2 separate regions of the Homo sapiens genome follow, and region 1 is linked to region 2. Evidence: fine-mapped expression QTL. A gene starts in region 2. The other region holds a variant in brackets. All regions are shown on one strand. Distances are between the middles of the regions.

Evidence for each region. PIP is the estimated chance that this variant, and not a neighbour inherited with it, causes the effect. A credible set is the group of variants that fine-mapping cannot tell apart.
Region 1: its variant is the best candidate, but not a certain one, in a credible set for the expression of SUCLG1 in whole blood (TOPMed, PIP 0.59).

The regions. Positions count from the first base shown.
Region 1 is chr2:84,491,554-84,496,937 of GRCh38, forward strand. It overlaps a transcript of DNAH6 not described here. Among named protein-coding and RNA genes, the nearest start is that of DNAH6, 22 kb to the right of the region's middle. The variant T/C (reference allele first, on the strand shown) is at 2,589.
Region 2 is chr2:84,457,124-84,462,507 of GRCh38, forward strand. It overlaps SUCLG1 (succinate-CoA ligase GDP/ADP-forming subunit alpha), which reads right to left and starts at 2,157. Exons shown (of 9, transcript NM_003849.4): 1 at 2,050-2,157. The coding sequence starts at 2,146. It also overlaps a transcript of DNAH6 not described here. RefSeq lists an enhancer at 2,194-2,333 and a silencer at 2,514-2,703.

The sequences.
Region 1 (5,384 bases), 34 kb after region 2:
TTTTACTTTTTTGCCGTAAAGGGACAAGTATATTCTTTAAGCTTATTCCCTTCATTCTATCTTCATTGTGGACATGATGTCTGGGACTGCAGAAGAAGTGTTCTTTCTCCCAGATCCACATTTTAGAATTCAAGATAAAGACTCTGATCATTGCAATTTGAATCATGTGCCTACCTCTCAAGTTGTTTTTTCTGTTGAATGTTTTGGTTTCTGTCTTTGGTGTTAGAGGCTTTCCTTGAATTTTCTAACAGTCTTTAGTTGTCTGCCTATTTTTAAGACAGAGGGTCTAAAAACACAAAACAGTACCCAGGTAAAACTTGTTTACTGTATGCTTCACTGCAGGGTTGATCTGGCTGGGCCACTTAGTCGTAGAACTTGGCTGCCCACACATTCAGGTCTTCCCCGTTGCGCCGGTCAGATTCCGCCGAGAAGATTCTCCCAGTCTACTGCTCAGAAGGTGGAGGTCTAACTACCAGTGCTTTAAGGCTTGGGTAACCAGCTCATCCTTGTTTGCTCAGGCCTATCATAATTTTAAAATAGACCCCATCTTGGGAATGCCTTAGGTCTAAAGAAAATTGTAATGATTCAACACACTATGTCACCTTTCTGAGAGCTAAGTAGGGAAAGAGGGTTGGGTGATCTTGTCATTTTGCATGCTCACATTCAGATAATGACACTGTTTTTAGTAGGCTACCCACCTTCAAATGTGCCTACTGTCCCTTAGAGTAGAGACCTTCTGTTTTACTCATTCCAGAGAATAAATTTCCAGTCTTGTCCTGTAACTGGGGGAGGATGGAGCAAATCTGAAGACCCATTCAATCCTTGAACAGACTGTCAACCAACCCCCTTGTTTCAACCCTTATTTCCAGACCTGTGTGGTGCCACAAATTCCAGAGGCTTGAAGGATTCTATTATGTATATTAGTTGGTTATTTTCTTTTCTCACTATTGCTTAGAGTCCACCTTTATTTTTTGTTAAATCACTTACTATTCATATTTCATATTTTTGTTTCTTTTCCCATTCTTCTAATTTTTCTGAGTTTCCAACTTTAAAGAAATTCTTTTAGTGGGGTTTTAAGAAGAAATAAAATTAGTTTGGTATAGTCAAAATGCCATATTGCTCTTACATCTATGGGAATAATCTTGTCATACACTTTTTATCCAAATACCTAAGTGCCTCGGGGAATGAATTCTCAGAGCTTACTGCTATTGCCCACTGTGTGTCACTATCTTCTTACCATTTGAAACCACAATTTCTGGAGTCTTTCTAGTATTAACTTACTGAGTTCCAATATGTCTAAAGATAATAAAAAATAATGACACAAACTACAAAATCATAACACAAGCAAAAGCTGACAGCAATGAGAAATTTTCTAGAAGATTCAGTCTCCTAAAATAAAAATGGTACTTTATCTTGACATGGTGACCGCTTTCTATATATACTGTATATTCTATATATTTTTCTATATACTACATGTATATATATTTACTATAGCAGGGGTTGGGAAATCTTTACTTTAAAGGACCAGATAGTAAATATTTTTATTTACTATTTTAAAGGGGCATGGCTATGATCCAGTGAAACTTTATTTACAAAAACACAGGTAGAAGTCTGGATTTGACCCATAGATTAGAGTTTGCTAATCCCTGCTCTGTGCTATATGTAGATAATATATGTATACAAATTCTGTACCATAAATATAGACTATATACCATATGTATATTTTTAAACAAAATGAAATAATGTATAATATTCTGAAACTCACATTTTCACTTAGCAGTATATTGAGTATATTGCCCCATGTCATGTCAATACATATAACTCTCCTTCATCGTTTTAATTGGCTAGAGCAACTTATTGGGAATCATAGTTTAGATACTATATTTTATTTAAATGTAGCTTCCATTAAAATCCTTAAATAAATATCTTTGTGCCTCTGATCACATATTTTTAAAGTCAAATTTATAAAAGAGGAACTACCTTTAAAAGATACACGTAGCTTTCAAAACTCAACAAATGCTGAAAAATTTCTCTCCAAGATGCTAATTTGAACTCTATAAGCAAAAATCGTTGGCTGAGCCTACATAGTTTAAATTCCTGGAGTTAAAAAGTTATGTAAATGAGTCATCACTGAAAGGCTCCAGAAGGAATCGGCGCCAGAAGACTGGATGGCTATACAAGTGACGCAGATGGTCCAAGAGGAAGCTAGGCTGGGACATCCTTGGTAGACACAACAGCTTCAGGCCCAAAGATGAGTAAAGGGGTGAGATGCTGATATCAAATATTCTAACAAGGATAACTGATATGAAACTGGTCCATGATAGGCTGTTTGTTCAGTTTGAAGAGACTGTGACAACAAGCAAGGCTCCCCACCAAGGCACACAAGGTGTATTATGGTCAAGCACGAGGAACTAAGGCCACAGTAAGAACAGGAGTGGTTGTCATTAGTTTGAGTTTGGAGTCAAAGGCAAGACAGAATGGACAGAGTGAGATCAGAGGCAGCAGTTGCGTTTTGCAGGTTTTCCCTGTCAGCCACACTGAGGGAAGGGCTGTCTTTGTGAAAGGATGTGGTCCTAGGAGAAGGGGAT[T/C]GGGGACAAGAGTCTGGCTGCACTGGAGACAAAGGTCCAAAAAACCTCAGCCCAGGACTCACACGTTGGTCTCTCTCTGAGAGCTCAGGACACTATTAGTGGTAGCATATGAATCATCTGAGGCCCTGGGACCATCAATGTTGATTTGTTTGCCGGATACAGGTTCTCTATAATGTAGCATTTGACGAAGACCATGACTAATATCCTGATTTTCAGGAAGCAAAAAGGAGACATTAGCAGAATTTCTAGATGAAGGGGAATCATTTTCCTACTGTACTCATTATGTCACATCACATCGAAAATCCCACTTTCAGTCCCAAGAGCCATTTTTAGTGTAGAATTACTAAAGAGAGTTCTGCAAAAATATCATACACGGACTAAAGAAACTGGAAGGTTAGGAGGGAGAGATTTAAAGAAGGAAAATTAAGAGTAGAATAATATCTGCATTCAAACATTAGAAAAAAACACGGGGACAGTTTGTAGAAGTGACTAGAGAGTAGATTTTGACATCTACCCAAAACAGAACTTTCTGAAAATTAGAACTATCTAACAGAGGCACAGATATAATGCATTTCCTGTAACTGGATGTGATCAAAGATGAGAAACTCACCTTCCAGGCACCATTCCAGCCTTCCATATCCAGCAGACTTACTGGACACCAATTCTGTTCTCCATGGCAGCACTTCTAAAATTTAATATGAACTGAACCACCTGGGAATTATTAAAATACAGATTGATTCATGAGGTCTGGAGCAGGATCTGAGATTCTGCATGACTAGCAAGCTCTCAGGTGATGCCAATGCTGCTAGTCAATGGATCACACCTTGAATAGCAAGCTGCTGTGGCAGAGGCTCTCAGATGTGTCTCTGTGGAATCACCTGGGGTAGGGGACACTTTAGAAAAACTATCAATGTCTGGATCTCTCACTCTTAGAGAGTTTAATTCATATGATGTGTGGCCTGGGCATCAGAATTTTTCAAAGTTCTCTAAGTGATCTTAATATGCAACTAAGTTTAAATGCCCTTTGACCATTTATTTATTGAGACAGAGTCTTGCTCTGTTGCCCAGTCTGGAATGCAATGGCAGTCTCGGCTCACTGCAACCTCCACCTCCCGGGTTCACTCGATTCTCCTGCCTCAGCCTCCCCAGTAGCTGGGATTACTGGCATGCACCACCATGCCCTGCTAATTTTTGTATTTTTAGTAGAGACAGGGTTTCACCATGTTGGCCAGGCTGGTCTCGAACTCCTGACCTCAGGTGATCCATCCACTTTGGCCTCCCAAAGTGCTGGGATTACAGGCATGAGCCACTGCGTCCAGCCTCTTTGACCTTTTCAAATCACAAAAACACTAACTTAGAGATCACCTCTGCAAAGACCTTTAAGTCTTGAAATGTAATTATCTAGGCTTGGCAGGGCTCATCACTCATACATATTCACATTGGTTCAATATTTTGAAGGAAAACTTTATAATAATTATTAATTCTCATAACTAATGGGGCATTAGACCATATAATGCCTCAAGTTCCTTTCAGATTTAAGAAACCATTGCCCTGATACAAAATCTGGTAATGCATATATTTGACCACGAGGTGGTGATGAAGCAACAGAATACGATATCACAAACCCCTCAGAAAGTTAAGCAGCCCGTGACTTATGCCAACACTTAAGAGTGCCCCACTTGCAGACTATGTCTAATTCTCATCTTTGAGAGGTGATTGGTCACAGACTCTTTTAAGAATCTTATCAACGTTACAGACAAAGAAATACACGCACACAAACATGAATACAATTGTAAGCAGTTCACAGACCCTGAAATTACACTGGACAGCCAAGGCTGAAGAGACATTAACTCCCGTATAAATTATATGACGCCTCTCCCACTCCCACCTCCACGCTTCTCAGCAGCTGACCACATCTCCTGCTTCAGAGAGGAAATAGAATAAATAAGGCCCCAAATCTATCACTTTACCTAACCCACTGCCACCTTTCTTCCATCTACATGGGACAGATGTCATTTCTTTTTATCAAAAACTAAATCTTTCAGCAGTGCTCCTGATCCATTTCATCCTGGCCTCCACCAAGTTCATGGTCCCTCCACTTTAAGCCTTCTTATGCTAATTTAAAAGTAACTAATTTTTTCATTGTAAAAGTAGGATATGGTCTTTATTTTTAAACACACAGAATAGCAAAGGGCATCACATAAAAATAACCATAAATCTCCTAAATATTTATGTTTTTCTTCTATGTAGTTTCTGAGTTTATATATATTCTGGGCTTACAAAAATATAATCATGTTATGCAAACTGTTTTATGACATTAATACTTAATGTAACTTTAAAATATTTTCATCTTTATATTTCTTCACCTGCAGATGTGGTTCTAAACCAGAGATATTCATGTGAATCACCTATAAGAATTTTTCAAGCAAATACTTGCCTGGGTGCCAATGCCAAAGATTCTAATTCATCAGATCTGGCATGAGTCCTGGAAATCTGTATGTTTAGAAACTCCCACCTGTGATTTTGAGGTCTAATACTAGAAATATAATTTTAAATCAATTTTATTGTTATAAGTTACATATTATAAAATGCACATGTTCTAAGAAATTCAGTACAGTGAATTTGTACACATTTATATACCCATGTAACCACCAAAGTTACCAAGATATAAAACATTTCCATCACTCCCCAAAATTTTCTTGTTCCCCTTGCCAGTTAATCTCCTACCCCTCTCCCAGCCCCAGGTAATAACTGATCTATTCCCTATCACTGTAAATTAGATTTGTATTTTCTAGA
Region 2 (5,384 bases):
CCCTAACATCTGTAGCTCTATTAGCTTCACAGACTAAATAATTTCTGGTCCCTTTTTAAAAAAAAAGTTTGCAAGGTGATGTTGTAGCTGCTATTTTTCTAGTGGGAGTGAAAATGGGCTCGGAAATGTGGCATGGGAAAGAGGAGTTAGAGTTTTGTGAATTTAGAGGTGTTTACACATTAAGCATTGTTGTCTGTAACCCCTCTTAATATAGAATACATCTTGGTTTAAATCTCAGACCCGTAATAACAAGTTAATCACATGACTTGAATAATTCAAGCCCACTCCAGTAACAAAACTAAACCAGATGGTCACTCTAGGGCCAAATGATCCTGGGAGTCTAGGAAGAACACACTTCCAGTTCTGTGGGAAGAGGATTGAGAGGACTGCTAAGGGTGGAGTAAGGAACTAGATCTTTTAGACACTCTTCCTTTATTCTCTAGATTTTTCTAGACAGCAGACCTACCTGAGGCTAGGATCTTTCAGAACCTCAGACTAGCAAGACCACAGAAGCGAAAGACACAGGTGGGCAACTTCTTCCTAGGGTTTCCCACCACAGTGGCTGTGCTGCACATCTGATCTTCTACATTCTAACCCACTATCTATTCAAATTAAGCTGGTTTAAAACCATATCCAATATACTTCATTCTTGGTGCTCAAACTTTATTGACCTGAGTGATTACTGGGTATAATGAATTCTTTTTGTCCTTCTGCCTACAACACTCTCAAGAATCTCCAGAAAGCTTTACCAAACAAACCATTTCATACTTGCTAACGTTATCTAGCCAGACCTTTGTCCTCAAGTGATTGGCAACTAAGTGTTAGCTATTGAGTGCACACTCATCAATGTACACTTTCAGAATGTAATCTTCTCAAGAAAGGAATTAAGTCTCATAAAATATTCAGTACAAGCAGAATTAAGAGCAAAGCGGAAAAAGAAAACTAACTTTGAGTGTTTGTTACATACGAGATGCTTTATATAAATTGCTCCACTTATTCTGCAGTGAACCCAGATCATCCTGTACATCATCATTGCTAAAATGCACATTTTTTTTCACTTTTTAAAAAACCAGGATACATGTGACAACCACTGGTGTGTCACAGTTTTAATAAGCAATCGTTCTTCATTGTTAGTGGTAAACAAAATAATGGTCCACCTTACAAGTGATGGTGCTTCAGGCCCCTTAAAATGTGTTAATATTTTCATGTGATTGGAAACACTGAAAAACAGATTAAGTGTCCAGGGTTATTACACAGACTGAAAAGGGACTAGCCAGACTTCAAACCCTGATGTGGCTGATTCCAAAGTTTCTTTCTACTATAACCTACCTGACAAGCACAGAGACTTTGAATATGGCAAGAATTTTCCATAGTCAGCGTGTCTCAAAGACTAGCAACCTTGGGTACTAAGTTTTCGGGAACGGATGTGTCCACAAATCGCCTGGTGGAGACACTGCAAATAAGCTGGTTTAGGTCCCAGCCAACCATAAGCTTCTAGTAGTCTATGCGGCTATGCCGACCCCACTCCGTGTGCAGAAACCATCTTTCCCTGACATACAATCCTGCAGAGGGGGAATTCGAAGTGCAGGACCTTTCCGTACTAGGGACAGCCTCATCCCCCAACTTCCTACTGAGACACTCTTCCTCTACCTCTCAACCCAGACCCTTACCTTCCCCACCAAGTTCACCTTGGACCTCTTCATCCCCAACTCCAAATAAGGCCAGTCTAGACGCCACCCCCATCCTGTCATTTGTCACCGCGGGGCCGAGAGCAAGCTCCCAAATTTGCAGGGCTCCCGGACCCGAATCCTGGCTCAGCCACCCAATATCTCCATCTGCCAGCGGCCTAAGTCATGCCCCCCGCCCCACGTATCCAGCAAAGCTCCTTCCACCGTAGGGGTCCCCGACTCGAAGCCGGAATCCCAAGCGGCTCCCAGGCCCCCGCCGAGGTCCAGCCCTGAGGGCCCAGCCGCGGCCTGGGCCAGGAGGTTGGGTCCGGCGGGGCCAATAACCCGCGGGCGCCAGGAAGACAGTACTGGCTGGACTCACGGAGGAAGCTGCGCGACAGGAGACGGGCGGCGGCGAGGCCGCTGCTGCCGGAGACCATGGTAGCGATGTCAGCGGCAGCGGCAAGGGTTGCGGTCATACGCCAATGACACTCCCAGGCCCCCGGGGACCTCCCAGGGGCAGAGGCCGGAGGAGGCAGAGGGTGGCCACAGCAGTCGCCTGAACAAATTTCCCTTTACAGAGGATTCTTCACGAAACAGCGGGAATGGCAGGTGAAGACAAAGAGGCATCCTATCGGAGAGGCAGATAATAACTCGGCTCCTTCCTAGAAATGTGGGTTTGATTAACATTAATTATAACAGCAGCTGAGGGAAAACCCCACGCGAGACTGGCCAGCGCGTGGCATTGTGGGCAATGTAGTCTGACGGCCGCGACTGGTTCGTAGCTTTTGAGTGAGGCGGCGGGAAGGGAGCGAGGGAAGAGCGGCAGTGAGACCGGGGAGACAAGGGACTTGAAGACTAGGAGGGAAGAAACAGCGAGGTGAGGTGCGAAGAGCAGTGCCAGAACTTTGTATCCCAGGCCCATCTCCTTCCCCCTTCGTTTTCCTCGTTTGCTATTAGAGAGAATAATATTTCTCACCGCGTACCTGTGCCTGGACCCGGAAGGGTTGCCGCTGGGGACGGGAATTCGAACTGGCACTGGTGGCCTGTGAAGGGAAAGATGTGATGAGAAAGACCAAAACCTATCTTACTGACAGTTAACTTCTTGGAATGTGAATTTTTTTAGTTAAATAATCATGCAGTCTTTGACTAGCACTAAGTGCATGAGTGTTTATTCCCTGAGGATCCTAAGGGCTGAAATTCGAGGTCAAATGTGACTTTGCTCCCTGATTGGACAAACAGTTCCCTCTTCTGTAACAGCTTTAGAAGGAACCTCAGAGAGTCCCAGAGTCAAAAGGTAAACAAGAGATGAAGTAATCTGCGTCTCTGCCGAAAATCGTGCTCCTGAGATTCCTCATCAGAATTGTCAATAAAATTGCAATCCTAATTTACTTAGGTAGTCATTATAATTGGCACTGAGCTGTGGGATGGATGAGTGGGATTACCCCAGGAGATTGCCCAATACTTCCTTTATGATCCAAATATTGTCATTAACAGGTTGGACTTCACTGCAAATAAACTCCTCCCTCATGGATCATGTTCTTGTGATAACTAAATTCCTCAGAGTTAAATAGTATCAGTGGTTTCCAGATATATCCATTATAACAAAATGGACATTTTTATGGCAAATAAATAGAAAATCCCTTGCTATTTTAAATAGCAAAATTATTCCTGAGCTGTCGCTTGATAAGTTATATGTTTAGTTTCATTTAATTGATAAAATGCATGATGACAAAAAATATAATTTCAGTACACTTTTAATGAAAATTTGTATTTCCATGAAGACGGGGATTTTTGTTTGTTTTGTATCCTGGAGTATCCCCAGCACCTAGAACAATGCCTTACACAAATAACTCATCGTTGAATTGAATTGATATATATAGGAGAAATAGTAGTATATAGATTATTTTTTGGATCCACAGGCAATGTTTGATGGACTTAGGATATTTCAACCTCTTGTAATAACTGCACCCCTGTGGCAGACCAGGTCTCACTAACGCAGGCCTCCATAACAATGTTTCAGTGCTGACTGAGTGGTTAAGTTAAATATTAAAAGCCAGTGCCCTTATACAAAGGCTGAGATGTAACAGAAACCCACCAAGGGTTTTGCCTAGGCCTTTCCTGGGCCTTGAAGCATGACAAATTAATGAAGAAATTCTTAACAGGACCCATTTAGGATTAAACAAGTTTTATTGGAGGTCCGAAGAAACTCCCCAGGCCTCCACAAACAAGTTTATTGGAGGTCTGAAAGAACTCTCCAAACCTCTGTGATTTAGCAGGGGATAAGATAAGGGTAATCACCCCAGCACCTAAACCCATGTAGATTAAGTAAATTTATTGAGGCTTCAGAGGATGGTCTTCAGTACTCAGACCTTAGTTATAGATTAAAAGAAGTTAATCACTTATGTCTTTAGATAAATGCACACTTACAAGTAAACATATAGCTTAGAAGGTATATAAGCTCTGGAAAACTGTAATTTTAAGTTGGTCTGATGATAATTTCCAGGCCTTCTCCCTGTAATCGGTTGCAGAAATAAAAACTCTCTTCCTCCCCAGTTCATCTACATCTCATTATTGGGCCACAAAAAATAGCAGCCCAACCCTCAGTTTGGTCCGGGAACACCCCTACCTCAATTCTGTAGCTCATAGGTAGGGGACAACCACACTAGTCAATACCACACCACTCATCTTTGTATGCAGATTGAGTTTGGAAATCAGACAGGTCTGGGTTCAAATTCCAACTCTGCCACTGGCTACATGACCTCTGGGTTTCAGGTTTTATTACTGAGATGGGTATGAAACTCCCTATTTCATAAGAGTGTTGTGAACATTTAATACATTTAGTATATAAAGCTACTGTCACCTTGTACCAAATAGTCGATAATGGTAGTTATTATCATTAAAGAACTGTCTTTTTTACATGGCAGGATCATGTTTTAAAGGTTTTAACTAAAGTGAGTAACCAAATTAGAATAGGATATTTCTATTTGTCTCAAAACTTTGTCTAAAGCTCTAAAGCTGAAGACAACAAGCCTTACCTCCACATCCATAAGGAGGGCAGTCTAGGAGCTACTTCTCTCTGAAGTTTGATAGGAAGTGGCCAAACTTGTCTTTGAATTCTCACCCCCACATCCCAGCCGGCTCAGATAAGCAAAAGACTAGAATTCACTGTATGAGGGTGTGAAAGGAAAATAAATCTCGGGACCCCAAAGTCATCAAGCCAAGAGAAAAGTCCAGCTGGGAACTGCCTGAGGCAAACCTACCTCCCATTTTATTCCTAAATAATATAGCTACAAAGATAATAAGCTACATACCTCCCTCACAATTTGCCCACAGGAAATTCCTGGTGGATAAAGGACAGGCAGAACTCAGTCATCACTCTGAGGCTCACCTGAGACAGATGCATATCTGATTGCTCCCTCTGCCCTATTGTTTATGTAAAAATGCAGATTCACTGAGCCAGACTAAATTGTGTATTCAGTGGAAGGCTGATCAAGGACTCAAAAGAATGCAACCTTTTGTCTCTTATCTACTTCTAACCAGGAAGTCCCTGCCTTACTGGATGGACCAATGTACATCTTACAAATATTGATTGATATGTCATGCCTTCCTAAAATGTATAAAAGCAAGCTGTACCCCCAACCACCTTGGGCACCTGTCATCCAGACTTCCTGAGTCACGAGTGCATCCTTAACCTTGGCAAAATAAATTTTCTAA